5 separate regions of the Homo sapiens genome follow, and all the other regions are linked to region 1. Evidence: fine-mapped QTL for protein levels in blood plasma. Region 1 holds a variant in brackets. A gene starts in each other region. All regions are shown on their reverse strands.

Region 1 (3,899 bases):
GCTATGGCAAGGCTGGGAAACTGCAGCCTGACTTGGGCTGCCCTGATCATCCTGCTGCTCCCCGGAAGTGAGTATGGCCAAGGATGAGGGTGCAGTGGGGAGGGGAAGCTACAAGGAGAGATATTGGGAATTTCCTTGCACTGCCACATGGCTCCTGGGATTCCCAGAGAATCCCACAAGATTCAAGTCTGAGCCACAGATGTGGGGTAGCTGGTCTCCCACCCACAGACTTCCACAGGCAAACCACCACCCAAGAGGAATGGTGAGACGACCCGGGCTGGTCATCCTGGAAAAGGCCAGTGAGGCGCAGATCTTGTCCGCAAATCTCTACCAAGCTGTCAGAAGCAACCCATGGGTCCTATGCAGCCTTGGTGGGCAGCAAAGGGATCAGGATGGAAGCTACAAGGGGACAGGTTTCATCCTGAAATAAAGAAGCCCAGGCAGAGCTTGGTTTCCAACCATGGAAACTCTGTCTTGAGAGGTAGAGAACTTCCCATCCCCAGGGGTATGCAAGCTAAAGCCAGGATTGATAAAGATGCTGTGCAGCAGGGGTTGGCAAACTTTTTCTGACAGTAATGTTTAGGCTTTGCAGGCCACATACTGTCTCTGTTCCTTGTTTGTTTGTTTGTTTGTTTGTTTGTTCGTTTGTGAGACAGGGTCTCCCTCTGTTGCCCAGGCTGGAGTGCAGTGGCACAATCGCAGCTCACTGCAGCCTCAACCTCCTGGGCTCAAGTGATCCTCCCGCCTCAGCCTCCAAGGTAGTGCAGGGCATGCCACCACACCCAGCTAATTTTTTTTTGTTGTTGTATTTTTTTGTAGAGATGTAGTTTTGCCATGTTGCCCAGGCTGGTCTCAAACTCCTGGGTTCCAGCAATCCACCTGCCCTGACCTCCCAAAGTATGGGGATTACAAGCATGACCCGCCACGCCCTGCCTATTGCATGTTTTTTGGTTTTTGTTTTTTTGTTTTTTGAGATGGAGTCTCACTCTCTTGCCCAGGCTGAAGTACAGTAGCGGGATCTCAGCTCACTGCAACCTCCGCCTGCCGGGTTCAAGCGATTCTCCTGCCTCAGCCTCCCGAATAGCTGGGATTACAGGCACCTGCCACCAGGCCCTGCAAATTTTTGTATTTTTACTAGAGATGGGGTTTCACCATGTTGGCCAGGCTGGTCTCAAACTCCTGAC[G/C]TCAGGTGATCCACTCACCTCGGCCTCCCAAAGTGCTGGGATTACAGGCATGAACCACCGCGCCCAGCCCTGTGGCATGTTTTTATTTGGTTTTTGCTTTGCTTGTTTTTAACTCTTTTAAAATGTAAGAAACATCTTTAGTTGTTAGGCTATACAAAAATAGGCCACTCAAGCCCTGCTGTAGAGGGCAGAGCATCAGGTAGAGTTTTGAAGCAAACAACCTTGTAAAGTTTCTTCCAGCCTGAAATCCTGAGTCTGGGCCGGGCGCGGTGGCTCACGCCTGTAATCCCAGCACTTTGGGAGGCCTAGGCGGGTGGATCACAAGGTCAGGAGATCGAGACCATCCTGGTGAACACAGTGAAACCCTGTATCTACTAAAAATACAAAAAATTAGCCGGGCATGGTGCCGGGTGCCTGTAGTCCTAGCTACTCGGGAGGCTGAGGCAGGACAATGGCGTGAGCCCAGCAGGCGGCGCTTGCAGTAAGCCGAGATCACGCCACTGCACTCCAGCCTGGGCAGCAGAGTGACTCCGTCTCAAAAAAAAAAAAGAAATCCTGAGCCTGTGAAGCAGTAGAAGCCCTTTGTTGAGAATCATGAACTTGCTCTGTGACCCTGGGCAAACTGCTTCTCCTCTTAGGGCCTTCGCATCCCCATCAGTAAAACGGGCCTAAGAACACCTGAGAGAGGACAGAAAGCATTGCGGGCAAAGTGTATGTTGATTTGTTTGTTTATTTATTTATCAAAAAAAATTCATCGGCCGGGCGCAGTGGCTCATGCCTGTCATCCTAGCACTTTGGGAGGCTGAGGCGGGTGGATCACGAGGTCAGGAGATCGAGACCAGCCTGCCAGCATGGTGAAAACCCATCTCTACTAAAAATACAAAAAAAAATTAGCCGGGCATGGTGGTGCGTGCCTGTAGCCCCAGCTTTTCGGGAGGCTGAGGCAGGAGAATCGCTTGAACCTGGGAGGCGGAGGTTGCAGTGAGCCGAGATTGTGCCACAGCACTCCAGCCTGGGTGACAGAGCGAAACTCCTTCTCAAAATAATAATAATAATAAATATTCACCAAGGTCCTACTCTGTACTAGGCACTGGGAATACAGTAATAAGCAAACAGCCAAGGTCTGCTGGCCTCACAGAATTTATAGTCTAGCTGGAGTGATAGATAAGTAAATAATCATAAGACTCTATAATTATGAAGGATAATAAGAGCTTTGAGGAAGTACAGGGACCTTGGCCTCCTCCAGTTCGTTAGTGCCTGGTCTGGTTTCTTCAAGATGCCTAAGCGTTAACCAGGTGAAACAGGGGTGGGAGAGAGAAAGAAGAGTCCCTCCAAAAAGAACAGCATGCCGGGCACAGTGGTTCACATCTGTAGTCCCAGCACTTTGGGAGGCTGAAGCAGGAGGATTGCTTGAGCCCAGGAGCTCAAGATTAGCCTAGGCAACATAGTGAAACCCCATCTCTACCAAAAAAAAAAAAAATCAAAAAATTAGCAAGGTGTGCTGGCATGAACCTGTAGTCCCAGCTACTCAGGAGGCTGAGGTGGGAAGATCACTTGAGCCTAGGAGGTCAAGGGTGCACTGAGCCGTGATCGTGCCACTGCACTCCAGCCTGAGTGACAGAGCAAGAACTTGAAGAAAAAAAAGAAAAGAAAAAGAAAACCAAAACAAAACAACAACAACAAAAAAAAAAAAACAGCAGGGACAAAGATCCAGAGATTAGAAAGATTTTGGAGTTTTCAAAGAATAGCAAGAATGAGCCAGAATAGCTGGAGCTGAGAGACCGGTATAAGCTGGAACTGAGAGGGTCAGGCAGGGGCCAGGCCACAGGAGCTATTGAAGGATTTGAGTGTTTATCCTAATGATGGCAGCAAATACTCACATGCCAGACACTGCTCTAAATGCCTTCCATATGTTATCGCATGTAATCCTTCCAGCAACACTAAGGTAGGGACGATTTTTATCCCCATTTTACAGATGAGAAAACTGAGGCACAGGAAGTCTTAGAAATATACCAGGATCATGTAATTAATAAGCAATAGAACCAGAATTTAAACCTAGGCAGTCTAGTTCCAACATCCACACTCATCCATCACACCACACTGCCTTTCAGAGCAATAATGTGCCATTGAAGTGCTGCGATGGAGATGGGGTAGCAGAATCAGATTTGAATTGTGAAAAGATTGCTGTGGCTATGGGTTCTTATCACTCTAATCACTGCTTGCACCATCCTTGGGGAGGGCACTGGGGAGTTAACAGTCTCCATCTGGTGGTGTGCTGGTGCTGGCTTGCAAAAACTAATTGTGCACATCTCTTCCCAACTCCCCGATCAATGATGTCACATCAATAGGCTGAAATCAGCTACAGTGAGAGCACTTACACCGCGGAAAGGCACACACTACAAACCAGGGTCTGCTTTTCTCTGCCAAGCTGGCTGATAAACGGTTACCAGCACATCACTATCTCTGTGTCACCCCCGTAGCCTCTCGAAGTCTCCGTCCCCATCCTTCCATTTCCAGCCCCCATATCTTGAAGGGTGAGACAGGAAGGTGAGGCCTCTGAGTCTAGGAGTACAAAGGCCTAGATTATAGCCCAGCTCTGCTAGGCAGAGGCGTCGTTCCTGGCCCATTCTCTTCCACCCCAGGTCTGGAGGAGTGCGGGCACATCAGTGTCTCAGCCCCCATCGTCCACCTGGGGGATCCCATCACAGCCTCCTG
Region 2 (6,300 bases), not on the chromosome of region 1:
ACCTGAGTCTGTGCTCCTTAATTTATTGGTGAGGATACAGAAAATGAGAGATGCTCAATCATTTTGTTAAAGTCACCCTGACAGGCTTTGATAGAACTGCACCTTAAACACTTGAATTTCTGGTTAAACTATGATTGTTTCCTAAATACCTAAAACAAGAAAGACTTCTTATAAAGACTCCTGAATTGGCAGTTCAATCAAACAAAATGCATTCGTGGAAGACTTTTATGTACTCAGGAAATACCAGGCTTTGGAAGGGATAATAATACAAATGTTAATAATTCCATTTATTGAGTGTCACATGCCAAGCATCGCACTAATAGTTTAATTATGTATTCAGTACATTTTTATACACAAATTATGCTTTTCAGTCATTAAAACCAACGTATGATATGAAAATTCACATTTCAGAGAAGAGAAAACTGAAGCTCAGAAAGGATTTCTCAGACCTGGCAATTTCCAAAGACTGTAATCAGTAAACTATAGGTAGTTGGTAATAATGGGGAAGTAAAAGTCATAAAAAGCTGGGTCAAGAGTTCAGCTGTAAGGCAGGGATCCCAGTTGCCCTTGTAATAACTAGTCAGTTTTGGGTGGTCAGTGTAGAAATCCCAGGAAGGCAGCATTCAGATGTTGTTGTATCTAAGATGAGAGAAGGGCTGACTAGGAAGAGATGGAAGCTGTGCTTTATTTATTCATATTATAGACAATCTGGTTACACTGTACTAGTCAAAGCATAGGAATAGAAGAATAATTTTAAAGAGTAAGAAAAGGAGCATTCCTAAAACAAAATGTAATGATTAATAGCAACAGTCGCTAAGAGACTCATTGATAAGTTTCAATAGAATAGTGGGAATAGATTAAAATGTATATACAGGAACAAACTATTTGCTCTTTTAAGATGGAACTTAGATATCCAAATAAGAGCTGGAAGACACTCACTGCTAAAATTGGGAGACATGGATCATGAAGGGCCAGCAATGACCTTGGGACACGTAAATACAGAAAAGACAACCTAATCATGGGAAATGAGAGAACAAAGGTGACTAGAAACAGCCATTTTGGACACTTAAGGTCAGATTGAAGTCAGTCTGTCAGTCCAACGTGTGTATGGTATTTTGTGACCCAAAAAGACCACATATACTTATTTAGCTTAATAATAAATGTACCAATATTTGACAAGCAAAATGCCTTCTACATCATGGTGCATCTAGTGGTCATTTAGTCATAACTCAGTAAAAAGTTAGAGAAAAACTATCAAGTTTGAATAATGAGGCAAAAATATTTTTCCTTTTTATACTGTTTTGTGTCTACTTATGGTAATTTCTCACAGAACTGCCTATAGCTTAGTAAGTCAAACCATGTCCTAAAACTCAAGTGCAATCCCACAGCTTACAAATATTAGGGGTAGGTTTGTCTAGATACAGAAGAAAAGTGCATAAAGTGGGAGAGAATTAACACTGGAAATACTTACTACATGGCAGGCAGCTTACATATATTATGTATCACAATTAAATACAATTAATATTATTCCCATTTATGATAAATATGAAAATTTACAATCAGAATAATAATTTCCTAATAAAGTAGGTGCTGTGGCTCATGCCTGTAAGTCCAGAACTTTGGGAGGCCAAGACAGGAGGATTGCTTGAAGCCAGAAATTCGACACTAGCTGGGCAACATAGCAAGACTCTGTCTCTACAAAAAAATTTAAAAAATTAGCTGTGTATAGTAGTGCACACCATGGTCTCAGCTCCTTGGGAAGCTGAAATAGGAGATCCCTTGAGCCCAGAAATTCAAGGCTACAATGAGTTCTGATCTAACCACTGCACTCCAGTTTGGATGATAGAGTGAGATCCTGCTTCAAATAAAATAAAATATGATATAAAATAAAATAATAAAATATAAAAATTTCCCAATACACATTGGTATAGAAATTTAGCCCATTTCCATTAAAACAGAAATATCAAGCTTTTAACAACATTCTACACCACTAAGTAGAGAAGAGAATGGGCTGTGGATGCTTCTGGGTCTGGTCCTTCCCCACAAAATACATTTTGCCACAGAAAGAGGATTGTGTAGAAGGTTGTTCCATGGTGATTTTTTCCACATAGCTGATTTGGTTTATTGAGAGCTTCCACTTCACATGTTCATAAAGTAAACAGATTCTAGGAGTTACTTGGAGACATGGCAGCAAATGGTTAACCATTTTTTAATGGTAAAATCTGACCTGAGTTTCTGAGTTCTCAACTCTCTTATAACAGACATTTAGAAGTATCCAATTCTTGAACTCAAAATTAACTATAATTTTAAAATGTGCCTATTGTGTAGACATTGATCTGTGATTATACATTTTGTCACATTGATCAATAAAGCTAAATATAAAAATGAAAATGAACAGAAACTATTGAATTATGCACCACAAGGTGCAATCTATATGCCAATATGAGCATGCAGAAATGTCTGCGTGCTATGTATATGCTACTTGTGATTTATTAATTTATACTTCTTTATTTATATAAACTCAATATTTAAGATTATTGTATTTTAGAATCAGAGGAAATCTGAAATTGTTAGTCCACCCCACTTCATTATTGTGCTATGGAAACAAGCCTGGAATGATTGACATCTTCCATAGATGAACAGAACCAAATAATGATAATTTAGCTTGGAGATCAATATTATCTTTAATTTTATACAACCAGAAAATACAAGTAAATACAGCACATCTTTGAATATAGAAATACCAATGAGTTATGGTGTGTTTGGCCATTGAGTTCTGAAAGTCACTGTGGCCTTGTATTTACAAACATTAAAGATAAAATTATTATCCAAAACAGTAATGTCCAATAGATTATTAATAAACATTTTAGATAGCTGTAAAAAACATTGTGTTCTCTAGAGTTCATAAAAATTATGAGCTTAATTTCAATCCAACAGAAATAATTCTGAAAACTCTAATGTTGTGATGCTAATAATTGGGCTAAGAATTTTCAAACTATTGACTGGCAAAAACATGGATAAATTGTAATATATGAACTTCAAAGAATAAATGCACAATTACAAAACTTGATATAGCAATTTATTTTTAAAAGCCATTTGAGGAATCACCAAATAATTTCAAAATCATGACTAGAAAACCAGCAATGAAATTTGAGACTACTGGTATGACAAATCCTGTTTCAGGCCTTGTTGATCTAGAGTTACTTGCACAACCAGAATTTGCCAAAACAGGAAATAGGTGTTTCATATATACGGCTCTAACCTTCTCTCTCTGCACCTTCCTTCTGTCAATAGATGAAACAAATACTTCATCCTGCTCTGGAAACCACTGGTAAGTGATAACTCCTTTATTTCAAGGTGAACATTATTTATTTCAAGGTGAACAACACATTTATACCTTATCAATGATAAAGTGATATATTCGTATATTTTATCTACAATTTTCCAAAGTTTATTGATAACTTTTAATGAGAGTAATTATCTTAATATATTCATTTTAAGCTGAGAAGCTAATACATAGACAGCTTTATTATTCCAAAAGCACTTTTATCCAGTTTGAAATTTAAATAAATTTTTACCTTTCATTCTAAAGTAATATAACTAATTCCCATGTCTATGACTTGTGGAAACAATTGTACTAGAACTATTTTTAATAGAAAAATGAAAAACTATGAATATATGTGTGTGCATACTTTCACATCAGTAACTTTTACTAATATTAAAACATACAGCTATATGGGATGCCATAGCAAAAGTTTTAAATTGGTCAAAACAAAATTATAGCACTGATCTCAAGATTAAAAAGTATTTTATTAAAGACCATCAACATAAAATGCAATTTACCTCATGAAATGCACTCAGATCAAAAACAAAAAAAAAAGGCTTTTAGAAGTTTTTCAGTCAAAAGTCAGTCTACTCAGTCATGTTTATGTAGGTAATTTAAATATAATATCTATCGTGCATATTTCATCTAAGGAAGCAATTTCCACATACGGCTTTATCTTCCGTAGCATATTAGAAGTGATTCTGAAGAGTCAGATAGTAGGAGACCACAGAACTACCTAATGACAACATGAAAGGGGTTATTTACCACTAGACAGAAGATTTTAAAGTAAAATGCTTTTCTTCCCTGTGGCTAAATGCTATCCAGGAAACTCTGGGAGTATTTGCAATAGCCATAGAAGATCCGGTGTTGCCTCTTCTGCTAGTTAAAACCAAATCTAGAATGTCTGCCTGTATGACTAAGACCTCTGAAAGTGGATCAAAAGAAATTAAATTGATGACAAGTTTCAAGCCTGGGAGTTACCCTACATTGATAAGTTATGAGGTAAATTGGGGCTTCTGATTTGTAACAGGCAGGGATGAATTGGGAGGAAGAGTGTCAGAATTCTCAAGTAATGTAAATCTGATAATTGCTATGAATTTCAGTTACGTTATTTATTGAATTCAAGTAAAAGGGAGGGAATTCATCCTTGAAAAAAAAGTGCTTCTCAAGAAATGCAAGACAGCTATTCTTATTTGGATATCTTTACGAATTTCTTACTTGATGAAGTCTAGCAGTTTTGCAAACTTTGCATATTGGCATAGGCTGCTTTCTGTATCACAGATACATAATAAGATGAAAGAAAGTGATCAGAATAAAGATTAACTATTAAATTTTAAGTAAGAAAATATTGCATCAAATACTTTTCTGTGCTGTGACTAGTTTATAAATGTGTCTATACCTATAGTGCACACATTATACTCACATGTGTTAATGCTTTTGACATCTTTTCTAATCCACGTAATCCTTTAAAATATTTCTATAGTCTGTTCTTCCTCCTTTGCTTTTTAATGTTACGATGTTTGGTCTGTCTCTTAAGTTTTGTATTTTCCTCCACCAGTTGATTTATCTGTTCCTACAATAATATTAAATTTTTGTCAACAAATGTTTGAAGTCTATCTTAATAACTAATATGAAAAGATAACCCAATTAATTCTTTCTTTTTTTTCTTTTTCTTTTCTTCTTCCTTTTTTTTTTTTTTTTTTTTGAGATGGAGTCTTGCTCTGTCGCCCAGGCTGGAGTGCAGTGGCACACTCTCGGCTCGCTGCAACCTCCACCTCCTAGTTTCAAGCAATTCTCCTGCCTCAGCCTCCCCAGTAGCTGGGATTACAGACATGCACCACCATGCCCGGCTAACTTTTGTAGTTTTAGTAGAGACGAGGTTTCACCATGTTACGCAGGGTGGTCTCAAACTCCTGAGCTCAGGCAACCCACCCTCCTTGGCCTCCCAAAGTGCTAGGATTACAGGCATGAGCCACTGCGCCCAAGCAATTCTTCTTTTAAAAGTTTACTCAGTTATTCATAAGCCACTTAAAATTTGTATTGGAATTAAAGTAAACAATTATCAGGTTAGTTTAGGATTGATATCTTTATGCTAACATGTACCATTTAAAAGCATTACAAAACTCTCAATTTATTCAGAACTTCTGCTATGTTCTTTATTAAAGTTTTAAGATTTTTTCCAAAAAGGATTTTTAAATTTGTTTTGTTGTTTCCCAGATACTGTATAGTTTTTTTAACTGTTATAAGTGTTTCTTAAATCTTATATTCTAGTTGAGTGTTTCCAGTAATAGAAATGGTATTTTTGTAAGTTGATAGTGCATCTAGCAAAATTGTTAATTTTGGTGTGTTCTCCAGATAGATGATCTTATCATTTGAAAACAATAACAATTTTACGTCTTCTCTTACAAAAGTTACAAATATTTTATATATAATAATATATTTTATATTATTATATATAACATAAAATGTATACATTACATTACTTGTATATATTATATATATATATATGTATATACTTTCTTTTCTTATGGCTTTGATTAGGATCTCTCCAGTACTGTGTTAAATAAAAGTGTTAGTCATTCTTTTCTTGTTCCCAATATTAAATGAAATGCACCTAGAATTTCTCCAATAACCATTATATTGGGTATAGATTTGCAGTATATGCTTCCTACCAAAGTAATGATCTCTTCTATTTTTTCTTTAAAAAAAAAAAAAAAAAAAAAAACTACATACAGGGGTTGAATTTAATGACGTATTTTTTGTCATATTACTTTGCTTTAGTCTGTTAATGTGATGAATTTTACCAATGAATTTTCTAATTTTGAATTATTCTTGCAGTCCTCATATAATTTTACTTGGTCATGATATTTTTAATATATTTTTGAAATTGATGAGTTAATATTTTGTTAGGATTCTTGCAATTCATTTATGAAGTGGGCTTATGTATTATTTACTATTATTCTTACGTCTTTTAT
Region 3 (6,300 bases), not on the chromosome of region 1:
TTCCACATTATGGTGAGTTGTAGAATTATTTTATTCTATATTACAATGTCATAATAATAAAAATAAAGTGAATAATAAATGTAATGCGCTTGAATCACCCAGAAACCATCCCCGCTCCCCCCCTACCCCATACACACACCAACTGTCTTCCATGAAAACAGTCTCTGGTGCCAAAAAGGTTGGGGATCGCTGCACTAGGGTATCAGATACTTATCCAGGTGCAGTGGGGACTAGAGTCAGAAATGCAAGAGTCTGCCTGGAGCATGTGTGTGTTTGTGTCCTGCATCATCTCTGCCCACCATAGTCAAATCTGCGATTCTCCGTGCATTGGCCGGGGGGGTGGTGCCTTTCTGTGTCCAAGAGTGTCTAGGGGCACATGGGTGTGTCTGTGGATGTGGTGTCTCCATGTGGCCGTGGTAGGTGGGTTGTGTACTCTGTGTGTGCACGTGGCTGTGTATAGCTGTGTGTGCATGTGCAGTATGTGCACGTCGGTGCTGTATCTAAGTGCACATGTGGCTACTGATCAACAGACATTTACTGAACGTCTACTGTGTTCCATGCTCTATTCTAAACCCTGGGGGCGCTGGGTGCAGTGGCTCATGCCTGTAATCCCAGCACTTTGGAAGGCCGAGGTGGGTGGATCACCTGAGGTCAGGAGTTTGAGACTAGCCTGGCCAACATGGTGAAACCCGCTCTCTACTAAAAATACAAATTAGCTGGGCATGGTGGTGGGCACCTGTAATCTCAGCTACTTGAGAGGCTAAGGCAGGAATATCACTTGAACCCAGGAGGCAGAGGTTGCAGTGAGCCGAGATTGTGCCACTGCACTCCAGCCTGGGCGCCAGAGTAAGACCTTGTCTCGAAAATAAAAATTAAAAAATAGGCCAGGCGCGGTGGCTCATGCATGTAATCCCAGCACTTTGGGAGGCTGAGGCGGGTGAATCGCTTGAGGCCAGGAGCTCAAGACCAACCTAGCCAACATGGTGAAACTCCTTCTCTACTAAAAATACAAAAATTAGCCAGGTATGGTGGCGAGCGCCTGTAGTCCCAGCTACGTGGGAGGCTGAGGCAGGAGAATCGCTTGAACCCAGGAGGCAGAGGTTGCGGTGAGCCGAGATTGCACCACTGCACTCCAGCCTGGGCAACAGAGCGAGACCCTGTCTCAAAAAAAAAAAAAGAAAGAAAGAAAGAAAAGAGAAGAGGGGAGAGGAGGGGAGGGGAGGGGAGGGGAGGGGAGGGGAGGGGAAGGGAAGGGAAGAAACGAAACCCTGGGGGGGATCTAGGAGCAGACAAGTCCCCTGCTCTGTGTTTTCATAATCTAGTATCCAGGAAGGGGTAAGCACCCTGCGTGTATCTGGTTGTAACTAACTACTCACAACTGCACTTGCCTGTGTGAAAACGTGAGCTTGTGATGATGCGTGACGTCAGGTAGGCGTCCCTGACTCTCCGTAACCCAACTTTGCCTGTGCCTTGGGGATTCCTCCTTGCAGGTAGGAAGTGAGGGGTACAGGTTCCAGCTCTGGGCTGAGACATGATTCAGGGTTCCACCCTGACCTGGGGCTCCTGGAGTCTTGGGGCCCTGGAGGGTCCCGTCCACTGCCCAGACTGACCCAGGTCCTCGATGAAGCCTCATTATGAGGACTGGGGGAAAAGGACCCAGCCACTTCCTGGGGAGGTCGGAGACCCCAGGGTGAGCGTCAAGGTAGCCTCAAAGATGAGACGTCACCTCTTGAAGGCAGCCATGAGCCTTGGGTGGGGACGTCACTAGAGGAAGTTCAGGCCCTATTTTCGGAGGAAGCAGTTGGAGACCCCATAGGAGGAAGGGCGATGGGGCAGTAGAAAGTCGCGGTGTCCCCGCCCCCTCCAGCAGCTACGCGCCCCACTCTCTTGGAGACGCTAGATCAGTCCCTCCGGGCCTACTAAAGAAACCACGCAGGGCTCAGATCCGCTCCATCATCATCATCATCATCATCATCATCATCTCCAGGTTTATTTCCAGCTCCCCCGCAACCCCTCCGGACCTGGAGCCGCCTCCGCCCGCGCTGTGCACGCGCTGCGCGCGACCTCAGGGCTGCACACGACAGCAGCGCGCTCCGGTCCAGTCCATGCCCGCGCACTGGCAGTGACATGTGGTCTCGGCGCGCACATCCCACGAGCCACAGGCGGAGCCACAAGTGCAGCCGGTGACGGCGAAGCCTGCAGCCCGGAACACAGGAGCGTGGACTCTGAGCTGGGAGGCTGAGGGTGGGAGCGGGAGGGGGGTGGGGAGCGCGGAGGGGGGTTGGGGGGGCGGGGGTGGGGACGGGGACGGCTGGAGGCTCCAACCACTGAATGGGCACTGGAGGCAGGGAGTGAGGGTGGACACCAGTGTCCAGATGGTGGGCGGAGAAGGCTGGGAGTCAGGACCAAGATCCTAGGGGAGTAGAGGCTGGACACGGGGAACGTGGCGGGGAGGGGGCATTCCCAGGGGACTTGGAACAGAAATGGGCGCCTGGACAACAGTCTCCTGCACTCACCTCGGGGGCAAGTAGCCAGGTCCCCCCTGGAGGTGACGCTCTGGCACTCCAGGCCAATGCTGCTTATTGCCCTAAATACTGGGGGGCAGGAGGAAAGGAGACAGGGGGAGCTGTGAGACCAAACGGTCCCTCCCCCATCCTCCCCTAGCCCTGTTGGTTTGGAGCTAGGTCCCTGTGGGCATAGGAGCTCACTGGCCTCCAGGACCCTGTCTTGAGTTGGGTGTTTTGGAGTAAGGGAAGGTTTGGAGTGAGAGCGGGGATTGGGTTTGGAGCCGTGGATAAGGTGGGGACAGTCGGAGGGGTTGGGAGTGGAGTTGGGGTTGAATTTATGATCTGGTTGGATTTGAGGATGAGATTTGGTGAGCGCTGGGGCTGGGTTGGAGTCAGGTCTGTGCCAGGGATCAGTGAGGTCTCTGAGACCCTTGGGGAGCTTGCCCAAGTGGGGGGTCCTCACTTAGGGAGCCGGCGACCTCCTGGATCCTCTCATTGATGGCTTCTTCCATGGAGCACAGGGTCTTGCTAGACACCAACAGCCCCAGGACAGGGAGGAGGAGGAGACAGAGAGCTTTCATCCTGCAGGCGCTGAAAGAGGGAACCAAGAGACCCACAGCTGGATCAGCCCTGCCCTGTGGGGAAGATCCGGCCCATGGAGGGAGTAGGATCTGCCCCTGGACCTGGACCCCTGTCCCCCCATGTGGGGGACAGGGATGGAGGCTCAGCCTTGACCCCAGCCTCCCCGCTGGTGCCATGGCAAGCGCAGGAGCAGCTGTCACTTACCCTCTCGGTGGGCTCAGCTAACCAAATCCGGCACACGAATTCCTGCACCGCAGCTCTTTCTTTGAGGCCTCTTGGGGTGGGGCTTCCTGGCTTGGCTAATAAGTCCCTGGGCCCCCAACCCTCCGGTCCCACATCCGGGGCCAAGAGGAAGCCCCTGAGCAGACAGTAAGGGCTGGAGGAGGAAGGGAGCCTTCCCACTTCCAACAGGGCCTCCGTCTTCATGTCCAGAGACTGGTCAGGAGGTGGTGCCCCAGGGATAATGCCAGGGGCTGTGGTCTGAGGAACAGGTAGACAAGCAGAGTTTTGCATGCAAGGGTGGCTGATGCAAACATGACAAAATTAATGCCTCTTGCTAGGCATGGTGCGGACAAGCACTTGTAGTCCCAGCTACTAAGGAGGCTGACGTGAGAGAATTGCTTGAGCCCGGGAGTTCGAAGCTACAGTGACTTATGATCACAGCACTGCACTCCAGTCTGGGCAACAGAGCAAGACCACTTCTCTAAAATAGTAATAATAATTATGTCTCTGGGTGAGAATGACATACCACATTCATACCCAAATGCCCATGAGCAATAGAACTGGTAAATAAAATCATGGTTTATGGCCGGTGGCTCACGCCTGTAATCCCAGCACTTTGGGAGGCCAAGGCGGGCGGATCACTTGAGGTCAGGAGCTTGAGACCAACCTGGCCAACATGATGAAACCCTGTCTCCATTAGACATACAAAAATTAACTGGGCGTGGTGGCGTGTGCCTGTAATCCCAGCTACTTGGGAGGCTGAGGTGGGAGAATCACTTGAACCCGGGATGTGGAGGTTGCAGTGCACTGAGATCGTGCCCCTGCACTCCATCCTGGATGACTAGCTTGGGCACCATAGCAAGACTCCATCTCAAAAAGAAGAAAGAAAAATCATGGTTTATTCCATCAATGGCATCACCTGCAACAGAAGTTGGAAAGCCATTGCTCATGGGCCAAGGTCCAGCTCATGTTTCTTCTTGGACCACCCATGAGCTTGGAATGGTTATTACATTTTTATTTGTTCTTTGTTTCCAGTACAACGGGCCTTTTTGTGGTAAAATACATATAACATACAACTTACCATTATAACTTACTTTTTTCTTTTTTGAGACGGAATCTTGCTCTGTCGCCCAGGCTGGAGTGCAGTGGCGCGATCTCGGCTCACTACAAGCTCCGCCTCCTGGGTTCACGCCATTCTCCTGCTTCAGCCTCCCAAGTAGCTGGGACTACAGGCGCCTGCCACCACGCCCAGCTAATTTTTTGTATTTTTTTTTTTTTAGTAGAGATGGAGTTTCACCGTGTTAGCCAGGATGGTCTCGATCCCCTGACCTTGTGATCTGCCCGCCTTGGCCTCCCAAAGTGCTGGGATTACAGGCGTGAACCACCGTGCCCGGCCTTTTTTTTTTTTTTTTTGAGACGGGGTCTTGCTATGTTGCCCAAGCTAGTGTCAGACTCCTGGCTTCAAGTAATCCTCCCACCTTGGACTCCCCAGTAGCTGAAGCTACAGGTATGCACCATCTTGTTCCATTTTAACCATTGCTTTTGTTTGTTTCTTTGTTTCAGAGTCTCACTCAGTTGCTCAGGCTGGAGTACAGTGGCTCAATCTTGGCTCACTGCAACCTCCACCTCCTGGGTTCAAGCAATTCTCCTGCCTCAGCCTCCCGAGTAGCTGGGATTACAGGCGTGCACCACCATGCCCGGCTAATTTTTTGTATTTTTAGTAGAGATGGGGTTTCACCATGTTGGCCAGGCTGGTCTCAAATTCCTGACCTCAAGTGATCCACCCGCCTCAGCCTCCCAAAGTGCCGGGATTACAGGTGTGAGCCACCATGCCCAGCCTATTTTAACCATTTTTCAGAGCACAATTCTGTGGCAATAAGCACATTCATGTTGTTATGTAGCCACCACTGCCGTCCATCTCCAGAACTTTCTCCTCTTTCCAAACTGAAACTCTGTCCCCATGAAACACTCACTCCCTATCCCTCTCCCCAGCCCCTGGCACCCTCCATCTTGCTTTCTGCCTCTATGGATCTGATGACTCTAGGGACCTCCTAGGAGTGGAATCACACAGTGTTTGTCCTTTTGTATCTGCTTATTTCACTGAGCATAATATCCCCAAGGTTCATCCCTGCTGTAGCCTGAGTCAGAACTGTTTTCCTTTCCATGGCTGTATCACATTCCCTTGTGTGGATGAACCACGTTGTGTTTATTCCTTCATCCATCGATGGACACTTGGGTTGCTTCCAGCTTTTGTTTTGTTTTTTTGTTTGTTTGTTTGTTTTTGTTAGTTCACGTCTTTTGTGGGTTTTCTTTCTTTTTTGAGATGGAGTCTCACTCTGTTGCCCTGGCTGGAGTGCAGTGGCACGATCTCGGCTCACTGCAAGCTCCGCCTCCCGGGTTCACTCCATTCTCCTGCCTCAGCCTCCCGAGTAGCTGGGACTATAGGCGCCCGCCACCATGCCCAGCTAATTTTTTTGTATTTTTAGTAGAGACGGGGTTTCACCATGTTAGCCAGGATGGTCTCGATCTCCTGACCTTGTGATCCGCCCGTCTCGGCCTCCCAAAGTGCTGGGATTACAGGTGTAAGCCACTGCGCCTGGCCGTCTTTTGTTAATTCATACAGTTATTTGTCTTCTGGTTTGTTGAAGCAGTAAGTCAGACAACATTTGCCACAATAATGTCTGTCAAAGTGGCTTGCCATAAACACTGCAGCACCACATTCATCAGAAGGGCAACCTCGACGAAGGTGACTAATTTTGCCATTCTCATCCACCTTATAATATTTCAGGACAGCCAGCTTCACCTTCTTTCTCTTGTGCTTATTCGTCTTGCAGGTAAGACTTCTTCTTCTGGCCGGGCTCAGTGGCTCAGGCCTGTAATCCCAGCACTTTGGGAGGCCGAGGCAGGTGGATCACGAGGTCAGGAGTTCAAGACCAGCCTGGCCAACATGGTGAAATCCTGTCTCTACTAAAAATACAAAAATTAGCTG
Region 4 (5,000 bases), not on the chromosome of region 1:
AGCAGGGTTCTGTTGCTCTCAGTCCGGCCCAACCCGTGACAGCTCATCCCCCACTACCTGGAGGGGCCCTACCCCACCCAGCCGAGATGGGCCTGGGCCTTCTCCCTGAGCTGACACCAGGCTGTCCCTCCTGGCCTGCCTGGGGCCCCTGGACCCCACTCAGACCCTCCAGCACCCGATGTCCTTCTTTCCTTTGGCTGCCTCCCTGGGTGGCTTTCACCCCCCCCGCCACCCAACACACAGAAACCCTGCATTTCTCCCCTGCACTCAGCTTGCTGCTTCCCTTCCTATACCCTCTCCCGGGGATCCACCTCGGTACTTCCAGTCTGCTCCATGCCAGCCGTTCCCCTAGCTCTCGGGTCAAACCTGACCCCATCCTTGAGTCCTCCCACTTCCCATCCCCTGGCACCCCAGGGCTGAGCTCCCCAACCTGTCTGTATTCTGCTCCTTGCTCCACAAATGCCCCAATCCCAATCCACTCAGCTGCCAGAGTCAGAAACCCACTGGGGGCGGCTGATCCCTGGCTCCCTGCCTCTTCACCCTGCGCCTGTTCTCTCACACCTGTGACGGCCCCGCTTCACTTTCGCTGGTCTCCCGACCCCCTAGGCTGCACCCCACCAAGTCTCCCCACCCTGCGGCCCAAGAGCCCTGCTCTAAGCCACTCCGCAGCAGATCCGCTGGGGCGGGGCCTGAGGACCGTGCTAGGTGCTAGCGTGGCCACCTGCCCCTCCAGGCTGCTCAGCAGCTCTGCTCAGGGTGACCCTGCGATGGCTTGCTCCTTCCTGAAGGGGGGGCTCTCTCTGACTCCAGCCCCTGCCGGGAACACCCCACATTTCCTTTTGAAGCAGGTTGGCTCTTTTAAGGCCACCTCCCTGGAAGCCTTCCATGAAGGCACTGGGTGGGGTTCCAGGCTGGATCCAGTGTCCCCTCCTCCCGCTCCCAGGCACCCCTCCTCTCTCCGTCTTGTTTTCTAACGACTGTGCATGTCCATCCCCACCACTGTCTGTGTGTCTGCATGGAAATGTGCTATAAACGTTGCTCTAAGGAACAGAGGAAGGATGAACACAGATGAATTCCGGGCAGAACAGCGAGGTGAACGACAGGATCCCTCAGCTTTGGCCATCCCTTGCCTGTGACGTCAGTCTGACTCTCACACCCCCAGGAGATGTCGGCCCTCACCTAAACAGGACGGAGGTGACATTGTAGCTCTTGTCTTCTTTCAGCTCATAGATGGTGGCATACATCTTTTGCGGGTCTTTGTCTTCTCTGAGAATTGCATTCCCTGCCAGGCCTACCACATACCACTTCCCCTGGAACTGCAAGGGACTGATAAGAGGCACAACCCAGGAATGGCCCTAGGAGCCACCCCTCCAGCTCTGTCCCTGTGGCACCTCTGGGCCGCCCAGCTTGGAACCATGAGCCCCTCTAGCTGGGCAGCAGGGCCCAGGCTGGGCCTGCACTGGTGAAGGGGCAGGAGCAGGAGGCCATCAGTCCAGAAGGGAGTCCTGGGGGAAGAGGCGGTTCTGAGTCTGGCAGGGAGGAGGGTGACCTCCTCACTGGAGGAGGCATGTGGCTGGTGGGCCTTCCTGAGCCTCAGTTTCCTCATCTGTGCAGGGGGACTAAAAGTGCTCCCACCTTCTTTGGACAATGGGGGTTATGGGAGAGGGGATGTGGACCTGGGGGAGTCTGTTCAGGCTGAGAGGGGGTGGGGATGGGGGGAAGGGGCATGGTTTCCACCAGGGGACCCTGGTGGCACAGAGTGAGCTGAAACCTGGACCCTGGACTCCTAGAGTCCTGCCCAACGCTCTTCCTGAGTCTCTTCACCTCTCCTCCCCTCTGCTCCCACTCTTCCCCAGGCCCTGCCTGCAGGTGCCCCTCTTGGCCCCTTACTTGGTTGTCCTGGAAGTTCTGCTGCAGAGGGACCTTGCTCAGAGGTGGGGCTGGGATCAGGTCTGAGGTGGAGTCCTGGGCCTGGGCATGCAGAGCCCCCAACAGGGCTAGGCCCAGCCACAGGAGACCTAGGGGCATGATTTCAGGGCCGAGGAAGCAGGCGCTGTGGTGGCTGCTGGGCCTGGCAGGGGTGGAAGAGGAGGTGGCGAGTGAGAGGCTCACCTGGGTGGCCCTATTTATGGGATCTAGGGTGGGTTGATTCATTCTTTGCCAAGGCCAGGAATGTGAGGCAATTGCCAGCAACTCCTGCGGAAACACTTGGCAAGATTTCTGCACCTGGTCAGGATTGGGCAAGACAGAGGGACGGGGAGAGTGAGGGACATTCCCGGAGTGCTGCACCTCTGGCAGGGACAACGACTCCCTCTGTGCCTTCCTTGTGCTGTTTCTTTCTTCTGATTGCCCTGTATGTGGGCCGGTGGCCTGTGAGCCGGAAGAGCTGTCATCTCTGACCCCCCTGCTCAGCTGGATCCCAGGGTGGGGTATGTGCCCTGTGGTCCCCTCCCCACACCCACAGAAAGGAAAGAATGAATGCCTCCTTCCAACAGATCATGTGCTGTTTCCTGGTTCTTTTAAGGGTCAGGGAAGGGTGGGGTGGCTGACAGTGGACAAGGAAAAACAAGGCGTCTGCTCTGAACTCATGGAGCCCAGAATCATGGCCCTCCCAGGAGCCCCAGTCCAGGACCTGCATGTGCTCCAGGGGCCTTGAGACAGCCCCTTGCCCCTCTCCTTGCCCCATTTGCAGGAGGGGACCCCAGTGGACCCCTGAGGGACCCTTCCTCTCCTGTGAGTGCAGTGGGAAGAGACCCCACACAGGGCACATGGGTTGAGTGCTGAGGCTACAGTCCCTGTCCTGGGTGAGTTGGGCTGATGTGTGGGGGCGTGAAGGCGCCACACTGCTGCTCTGGACACCTGTTGCTTTGGGTCACTGACAGTGCAAGGATCTGGCCTTATCCTTGAGGTCACTGAGACCATCCCCCTGACTCTAGTCACAGCCTTTTTCCATTGAACCCAGCAGCCCAGGCCAGGGGTTCTGGAACTGTCACCGAGATGGCTGGTCCCAGCCTTGTCCAGCAGGGAAGCAGTTATCTCAACGGGGGCCTGGCTGGCATCCTCGGGAGGCAGCGATGGATCGTAGGCCCTGTGCAGTGTCCGCAGAGATGGCTCACCCATGAGGGCTGAGGCCGTCCTGGATGCCTGACCTGAGGCTGGACTGAGGGTTCGCTGGTTTTAGAGCTTTCAATGGGACTAACGGGGACCTCACTGGCTCTGCCTACGTGCTGCTTGGGATCCCCAATCTGGGCTTGGGGGCAGCAGGGCCTCAGGGAAGGGGCTCTGGGAGTCCTGAGCTGGGGTTAGTCTAGAGAGGCACCCACTGGATCCCTGCCCCCTCAGGCCCTGTCCTGCCTGCCCGATTGGATGATGAAAGGGCAGGAAGCAAAGATGAGTAAAACTGCAGGGGAACGATGTTGCACCAAAGCCTTCCCTTTCTAGAGGTAGCCAGTGGCTACTCGCTCCCTCCGAACCCCCTCTTCCCCTCATGACCCTGTTCCCAGGAACTCCACCTCTGCTACTGTCTTTGACCTTAAAAAGTATCCTCTGCCAGGCCGGGTGCGGTGGCTCACATCTGTAATCCCAGCATTTGGGAGGCTGAGGCGGGTGGATCACGAGGTCAGGAGTTCGAGACCAGTCTGGCCAACACGGTGAAACCCCATCTCTACTAAAAATACAAAAATTAGCAGGGCATGGTGGCAGGCGCCTGTAATCCCAGCTACTCGGGAGGCTGAGGCAGAAGAACAGCTTGAACCTGGGAGGCGGAGGTTGCAGTGAGCCGAGATCACGCCTTTGCACTTTAGCCTGGAACAGAGCGATATTCTGTCTTAAAAAAAAAAAAAAAAAGGTATCCTCGGCTGGGCGCAGTGGCTCTCGCCTGTAACTCCAGCACTTTGGGAGACTGAGGCGGGTGGATAACCTGAGGTCAGGTGTTCAAGACCAGCCTGACCAACATGGTGAAACCCTGTCTCTAGTAAAAATACAAAGATTAGTTGGGCATGGTGGCGCATGCCTGTAATCCCAACTACTCGGGAAGCTGAGGCAGAAGAATTGCTTGAACCTGGGAGGCGGAGGTTGCAGTGAGCCAAGGTTGCGCCATTGCACTCCAGCCTGGGCGACAGAGGGAGACTCCATCTCGGGGAAAAAAAAAATGTATCCTCAGGGACTAGCCTGGCCAATATGGCAAAACCCCGTCTCTACTAAAAATACAAAAATTAGCCAGGTGGGGTGATGCATGCCTATGATCCCAACTACTCAGGAGGCTGAGGCAGGAGAATGGCTTGAACCCGGGAGGCGGAGGCTGCAGTGAGCCAAGATCGCACCACTGCACTCCAGCCTGGGAGACAGAGTGAGACCCTGTCTGAAAAAAGAAAAAAAAAACCACGTATCCTCGGGGAGGCTGAGGTGGGAGGATCACTTGGGCCCAGGAAGCCGAGGCTGCAGTGAGCTATGATTGTGCCACTGCACTCCAGCCTGGATGATAGAGTGACCTAAATCTAAAAAGTACCCTCTAGTCTACGGTGACTGCTTCACGTAGCTGAGACCAGCGGGTGGAGCCCCAGAGAATTTGAAGTTGGGGGTGAGGCAGTGTCATGGATCTCTGAGGACCCAGGACTCCAGGGTATGAATGTGGTGGGTGAGCAGGGCACTGGGTCCACAGTGGGAAGACACCAGAGCCAGGTGCAGAAGGGGAGATAGTCCCGCTTGGGGGTCCCCCAGGCTGGCTTGAAGCCTGGCTCCTCCGCATGCATGCAGATCTCTGCCTAGCTCCCACACAAATCAGGCGCTCCTCTGTAGAGAGGGCAGCTCTGCGCTTCTGTGAGGTCATGCATGGACAGCACCGGGCCCCAGGGTGTCCCTACACAAGGCTGAGTTTCTGATCAAACCCATGCAGGGCTCATTCCTCTCTCTGCACCAGCTCCAGACCTGTCTCCTACCCACTGGCCTTGGCTCTCTTCAGAGTCTAGCAGGGCTGCAGGGAGGGGGTCAGCTCTACATAG
Region 5 (6,300 bases), not on the chromosome of region 1:
TGCTTGCCACAGCTCCCCACCCTCCTGGGCTGTGAGCTTAGCGCTCTTCAGCCCAAGGCTGCCACAAGCAGGAAGTGACCAGCTGGGGCGAGTGCAGAGACCGAGTCTGAGGAGAGAAGCTCTGACCCCAGTGGTCACCTTGAACTTGGCTTCCACTTTGTGGGCAACTTGATGGATGGGCTCAAGTTTATGGAAGATGGTAAATGACAAGCCTGGTGCAGATGCTCAGCACTCCCTGGCTTCATCTTGTCTGGCTGTGTCTGGCCTGTTAAGCCCACCCAGACCCCATGCCCTCTCCTTTCCGGGTTCCCATGGTCCCTGTGCCTCTGTCTTCCCTGCCAGGCTTTGGCTGCTCGAGTGCAGATTCCATGTCTGCCTTGTTCCCTGCTGTGTCCCCAGCACTTAGCCCAGCGTCTGCACAGAGTAGGTGCTCAGATAAATATGTGCTAACGGAATGAATGTCAGACGAACTTGAGAACTTTCCTCCTCCTCCCTGGACCTCCTCCCCAGACCTCCTCCCCGACCTCCCTCTGGCCTCTCCCACCCTTCAGCCACCTCCCCAGCCCCTGGCCAGGCACCAGCTGGACTCAAGAAGGAGGAAGGACGTGACTGGAGGCAAACACTTTATTATCCTGAAGTTCAGTTACAATGTGACAGTGGAGGGGACACTGGTGAGTGGGGGGTGAAGAGGTGGAGGGTGACAGTGGAGCTTCCTTTCACACACAGGCCTGACATGATTCCTCCTGTCTGCTCCCTCCCACATCCCCAGTCCCCGTCCAGCAAGGCAAATGTCCAGGCACCTGCCTGGCCCTAAAAAGAGTCACAGTCCTGACCCTCGTGGGGGCAGGGCAGGTGTCCCGAGGCCACCCAGAAAAACAGGAGACGCGTCGGTGATGTTCGGGAGTCAAACCATGTCCCAAAAGTCTTAAGAAGAAAAACGAGATTCCCCAGCAAATTCGTGGGACCCCAGGGCCATGCCTCCCAGCTCTGGCCACCTCTGCTTGTCCAGGGGCCTCACAGCCAAGGGGATGCAGGGGCCGCTGTGCAGTCGGCTGAGGCCAGAGTGAGGGGTGCAAGGACCCAGATGGGGAACACTGCTGTTTAAATATTAAACAGGGATTTCTTGTCTCCCACGTGGGAGACCTGATACTCTCAAGGGTCCCAGGTGGGGACCCTCAGGACCAGGGGCTCACAGCGGCTCATCCCAGTGCCCATTGCAGAGCCAGGGCTGGGGAGCAGTCATAGTAATAAATACTTGGTATTTACCTATCTACCTCCCAGTCCAGGGGATGGGAGGACAGGAGCTTTTTCTCACTGCTACAGGCAGGAGAATGAAACTCAGAAATGCAGGGAAGGACACAGAGGCCTGGGGCTCCGTTCTGCTCTTCCCTGTCTTTAAATATGAGGCTTAAATAGACATAAATATTAAATAGAGATAAATACATGGGATGGGGAGGGCTTGGCTCAGGGCTGGGCAAGGTGGCGTAGAACGCGGTACGACACCTCCAGGAAGCTCTGCAGATGGGAGGCAACCAGGACCCCTCCTGCCCGGCGCTGGAAAGCAGAGGCGAAGGCCGGCATGGCACCCTGGGTGGGCTGCAGGGCAGGGGCCATTCCCAGTTCTTCCATCTGTGGGGGAAAGCTGTGATCAGTGGTTGGGCCCTTCTGAGTGGGCGTTATTACAAATGAGGAAATGCTGGGGGTGACAGCATGGACAGGGCCCATACACAGGCCTGGCTGTGGTGCCCAGAATGCCAGCACGACCTTGGCCACCCTGCCCAACAAGGCTCACCTGCTGCCAGATGGTGGTGGCAAAGTCGGCGACGTCCAGCTGCAGTGTGTCCAAGGTGGGACCCAACTCGGGGGAGATCCCTTCCAGGGCCTGCAGGAGCCCCTGGTAGAGGAAAAGGCCGCTATGGAGTTGGCTCAAGCAGCCTGCCTGTGAGACAGAGCGGAAGAGTTAGGGGGTGCTGCCTGAGATACGTCAGGCCCCCAGCTTGGAACCTGGAGACATGGGGGAGCCCATGGGTGTTCCTCCTCTCCTTCCCCCTCCTCATTAGCCTTATCCTTTCCTGACACTCACCAGCTGCAGGGCCTGGCTGGGGCAGCTGCTCAGGGGAGCCCAGGGGATGCCCAGAGAGTGTCCGAGCAGCACCAGCTCCTCGGGGTGGCACAGCTTGTAGGTGGCACACTGGGGATGGAAGGATGCTGAGTGAGACTCGCCATGGCCGGGTCGCCGCTCCTTCCCGGGTCCTCCCCGACTCTCTGGTCTTTCCCCTCCCTCCATGTCCTGCCAGGCTGTTCAGTTCCTCTCTGCCCTGCACCCCCACTCTCTGATCTCACAGGGGCCCTTGCCCTTTCTCCTGAATGTAATGCCTCCACTCCCATCCCAGCCAGCCCTCCCGAGCACTGTCCCCACCAAGGTCCTCCTCCCCAAGTCCCTTCCCAGCCTTCCCCAGCTCCACTGCTCCTAATATTCTCCCACGTCCCTTCCAGAGGATGTTGGCCCTGCAGTTCCATCCCCCTTAGCTCTCCCCACCGGGCTTCCCTCCACAGCCCTCTCACCCACCTCACTCACCAGCTTCTCCTGGAGCGCTGCGCCATCGCCCTGGATCTTCCTCACTTGCTCTAAGCACTTGAGCAGGAAGCTCTGGGGCAGGGAGCTGGCAGGGCCCAGGGGGGTGGCTTCCTGCACTGTCCAGAGTGCACTGTGCCACAGCAGCAGCTGCAGGGCTGGGGACAGAGCGGGCTCAGGAGACATGCTGTTCCCTACCACCTGAGGCCCTCTCGGGGACACTGGGTGCCTTTAATCCCCATTCCCAGAACGGGGATCCCCAGCCCCTCTGTCACACCAGCCTCCCTCCCATGCCAGGGCAGGCGGCTCTCCCATCCTGGGCCAAGACACTCACCCATCAGCTTCATGGGGCTCTGGGTGGCAGGTCCAGCCATGGGTCTGGGTGGGGCTGGGCTGCAGGCTCCGGGCTGTTTTGGGGCCCAGCTCTAGGGGGGCCTTTATACATAACCCCATGGAGGCCTGGGAGGAAATTACCTGGGGCCACGACTAAGGCTTAGTAATAACTTCCCAGGATTTATGCAAATTTGGTGTCCAAGACAATGCAGGGGGGTTGGAACAAAAAGCTGTTTGCGAAAGTTTTGTGAAATTGTGGAATCTCTGATCCTCCTTTGACGTCGCCTTGCCCCCCTCAAACTCCCTTCCTCCCGCTGCCCCACCCAGGCCTGAATGGCCCCAGAGTGTTTGAACAGAACAGCTGAACAAAGGCTGAGCCGCTGATAGACGCCTGGAAGCGGCAGCAGCCTGTGGGGAAGTGGCAGCTGAGTCGGGGTCTCCCTCTCTGCTCTGGCAGACTTGCGGGGGCAGTGTCCTTTGCCCCTCTCCTTTGGGATTCTCAAGCCTGTCCCCCAAGCCCCCAAATTCTAAGAGAGAAAAAAAGAAGCTGGTTGCTCCCATTCCTACCCCCAAACTCTCCGGAGGCTGCCTGTCTGGGAGACCTCCTGAGCCCCTACCTGAGATAAGGACATTGGGTCTTGGCTGCTGTGCCCACCCCACACTTGGATAGGCACCATCGAAAGTTCCAGGCTGTCCTGTCCCAAGTTGATTAGCTGGGAACTCCCCCAGAAACCCCCCCGCCCCCCATGACTCATTCGGCTAAAGCCCCTAGAATCCCGGTAGAGCCAGAGGAAACCGGATGTCTGTCCCGAATGAGGCAAGACCCTTCGAGGCGATTGGCTCACCTGACCTTCACCTCCTCGTGCACGACCCTGACAGTAGGGTCCCCAAGGGCTTTGGAACTGCGGGATTGGGACACGTGACTTCCCTGGTCATTCACCTTGAAGTGGACACGGGCTGGGGTGAGAGAGGGGAAACTGCCCCATCTTCTCATCTTAGAACCATGCAGCGTTAATGCTGGAAGGGACCTTGGAGTCGATTCCAACCCCGTGAACTGGGCCAGGGAAGGAAGTGCCTTGCCCAAGGTCATGGTAAGTGACAGAATTACAGCCTGGGCCTCTGGCTCAGACCTGAACGTTTTCTTTTTCTTTTCCAGATGGAGTCTTGCTCTGTCGCCCAGGCTGGAGTGCAGTGGCGCGATCTCGGCTCACTGCAAACTCTGCCTCTCGGGTTCACGCCATTCTCCTGCCTCAGCCTCCCGAGTAGCTGGAACTACAGGTGCCCGCCACCATGCCCGGCCAATTTTTTGTATTTTTAGTAGAGACGGGGTTTCACCGTGTTAGCCAGGATGGTCACGATCTCCTGACCTCGTGATCCACCCGCCTCGGCCTCCCAAAGTGCTGGGATTACAGGCGTGAGCCACCGTGCCCGGCCTAGGCCTGAACGTTTTCTACAGGCCACAAGGCCTGCCTGGGGCAGTCTGACTGACCACACCCAAGACTGTCACCTTCTGTCCTAATTTACCCCAGCGTGCCAAGAAACAGACATCTCTGGATGAGAAGTGGATGTGGTGACTGGATGGGGCCATCTCTGGTGCTTGGGGGCCCCCTGGTGGTCACCAATGGCAGGGACGTCTGATCTCACACACTGATCTCACACACTGTTATCTGGTCCGCGGTCCTGCAGCTCCGCCTTAGCTCTGTGGCTCAGCACCTTGCACTGATGTGGCCCAGCTCTGTACCCAGCTCCCTGGGAGTAGAGGGTGGGTTTTTGTTGTTGTTTTTTTGAGATGGAGTTTCGCTCATTGCTCAGGCTGGAGTGCAATGGCACGATCTCGGCTCACTACAACCTCCGCCTCCCTGGTTCTAGTGATTTTCCTGCCTCAGCCTCCCAAGTAGGTGGGATTACAGGCATGCACCACCATGCTCATCTAATTTTGTATTTTTAGTAGAGGTGGGATTTCACCATGTTGGTGGTCAGGCTGGTCTCGAACTCCTGACCTCAGGTGATCCACCCGCCTCGGCCTCCCAAAGTGCTGGGATTATAGGCATGAGCCACTGCACCTGGCCTTGAGGGTGGGTTTTTAACAGGACCATGGAAGGCAGGAGCTCCACATTCTTAAACATGTTGCCTGGCAACTATTGCATTGCACACCTCTTATATGTCAGGCACTTTTTTTTTTTTTTTTTAAGACAGAGTTTGGCTCTTGTTGCCCAGGCTGGAGTGGGTGGAGTGCAATGGCACGATCTCGGCTCACTGCAACCGCCGCCTCCTGGGTTCAAGTGATTCTCCTGCCTCAGCCTCCTGAGTAGCTGGGATTACAGGCATGCTCCACCACTGCCCCCACAGCCGGCTAATTTTGTATTTTTAGAAGAGATGGGCTTTCTCCATGTTGGCCAGGCTGGTCTCACACTCCTGACCTTAGGTGACCCGCCCGCCTCGGCTTCCCAAAGTGCTGGGATTACAGGCATGAGCCACTGCGCCTAGCCATATCAGGCACCTCTTATTACACTTTTGTCAATTTTTTTGCGGAGGGGAAACAGGGTCTCAGTCTGTCCCCCAGCCTAGAGGGCTGTGGTACAATCACAGCTCACTGCAGTCTTCACCTCCCAGGCTCAAGCGATCCTCCCACTTTAGCCTCCCGCGTAGCTGGGACCACAGGCACGGACCACCATGCTCCGCCAATTTTTGTAATTTTTTTTTTTTTGCAGAGAGGGCATTTCATCATGTTGCCCAGGCTGATCTCAAACTCCTGGGCTTGTGTCCGAAACTGGTGAGTGCTTGGTCTCACTGACTTCAAGAAGGAAGCCGCGGACCCTCGCAGTGAGTGTTACAGCTCTTAAGGTGGTGCATCTGGAGTTTGTTCCTTCTGATGTTCAGATGTGTTCGCAGTTTCTTCCTTCTGGTGGGTTCGTGGTCTCGCTGGCTGAGGAGTGAAGCTGCAGACCTTCGCGGTGAGTGTTATAGCTCTTAAGGCAGCGCGGCCGGAGTTGTTCATTCCTCCCGGTGGGCTCGTGGTCTTAGTGGCTTCAGGAGTGAAGCTGCAGACCTTCGTGGTGAGTGTTACAGCTCATAAAAGCAGTGTGGACCCAAAAAGCGAGCAGTAGCAAGATTTATCGCAAACAGCAAAAGAACAAAGCTGCCATATTGTGGATGGGGACCTGTGCCCGTTGCCACTGCTGGCTCGGGCAGCCTGCTTTTATTCTCTTATCTGGCCCCACCCACATCCTGCTGATTGGTAGAGCCGAGTGGTCTGTTTTGACAGGGCGCTGATTGGTGCGTTTACAATCCCTGAGCTAGACACAAAGGTTCTCCACGTCCCCACTAGATTAACTAGATACAGAGTGTCGACACAAACATTCTCCAAGGCCCCACCAGAGTAGCTGTCAAGC

Which allele goes with the higher level. Alleles are on the strand shown, and positions count from the first base shown. The strength of an association depends on the size of the effect and on how common the allele is.
With allele G in place of C in region 1, the plasma level of the protein whose gene starts at base 3,274 in region 2 is higher (moderate association).
With allele G in place of C in region 1, the plasma level of the protein whose gene starts at base 3,366 in region 3 is higher (weak association).
With allele G in place of C in region 1, the plasma level of the protein whose gene starts at base 2,101 in region 4 is higher (weak association).
As copies of G replace C in region 1, the plasma level of the protein whose gene starts at base 2,984 in region 5 goes up (moderate association).

Evidence for each region. PIP is the chance, under the fine-mapping model, that this variant and not a neighbour inherited with it causes the effect. Protein levels are from antibody-based Olink assays in UK Biobank. Linkage for the fine-mapping came from a reference panel and not from the study's own genotypes, which makes the PIPs less certain.
Region 2: CRISP3 starts here. The variant in region 1 is fine-mapped to the plasma level of the CRISP3 protein (UK Biobank, PIP above 0.99).
Region 3: RETN starts here. The variant in region 1 is fine-mapped to the plasma level of the RETN protein (UK Biobank, PIP above 0.99).
Region 4: LCN2 starts here. The variant in region 1 is fine-mapped to the plasma level of the LCN2 protein (UK Biobank, PIP above 0.99).
Region 5: CSF3 starts here. The variant in region 1 is fine-mapped to the plasma level of the CSF3 protein (UK Biobank, PIP above 0.99).

Annotation. Positions count from the first base shown.
Region 1 is chr1:36,475,601-36,479,499 of GRCh38, reverse strand. CSF3R (colony stimulating factor 3 receptor) reads left to right here. Exons shown (of 17, transcript NM_000760.4): 3 at 1-67; 4 at 3,827-3,899. The coding sequence starts at 4. Among named protein-coding and RNA genes, the nearest start is that of CSF3R, 5.4 kb to the left of the region's middle. The variant G/C (reference allele first, on the strand shown) is at 1,185.
Region 2 is chr6:49,741,362-49,747,661 of GRCh38, reverse strand. It overlaps CRISP3 (cysteine rich secretory protein 3), which reads left to right and starts at 3,274. Exons shown (of 8, transcript NM_006061.4): 1 at 3,274-3,331. The coding sequence starts at 3,295.
Region 3 is chr19:7,666,115-7,672,414 of GRCh38, reverse strand. It overlaps RETN (resistin), which reads right to left and starts at 3,366. Exons shown (of 4, transcript NM_020415.4): 1 at 3,294-3,366; 2 at 2,971-3,098; 3 at 2,517-2,594; 4 at 1,960-2,196. The coding sequence starts at 3,088. The coding sequence ends at 2,066. It also overlaps the pseudogene RPS27AP19.
Region 4 is chr9:128,146,554-128,151,553 of GRCh38, reverse strand. It overlaps LCN2 (lipocalin 2), which reads right to left and starts at 2,101. Exons shown (of 7, transcript NM_005564.5): 1 at 1,891-2,101; 2 at 1,180-1,316. The coding sequence starts at 2,028. RefSeq lists a silencer at 702-751 and an enhancer at 4,881-5,000.
Region 5 is chr17:40,012,124-40,018,423 of GRCh38, reverse strand. CSF3 (colony stimulating factor 3) reads right to left here and starts at 2,984. Exons shown (of 5, transcript NM_172219.3): 1 at 2,910-2,984; 2 at 2,579-2,733; 3 at 2,084-2,191; 4 at 1,793-1,939; 5 at 611-1,629. The coding sequence starts at 2,949. The coding sequence ends at 1,465. It overlaps PSMD3-AS1 (PSMD3 antisense RNA 1), which reads left to right and starts at 3,783. Exons shown (of 3, transcript NR_198981.1): 1 at 3,783-3,870; 2 at 4,065-4,186; 3 at 5,620-6,300. RefSeq lists enhancers at 2,575-3,074, 6,179-6,300.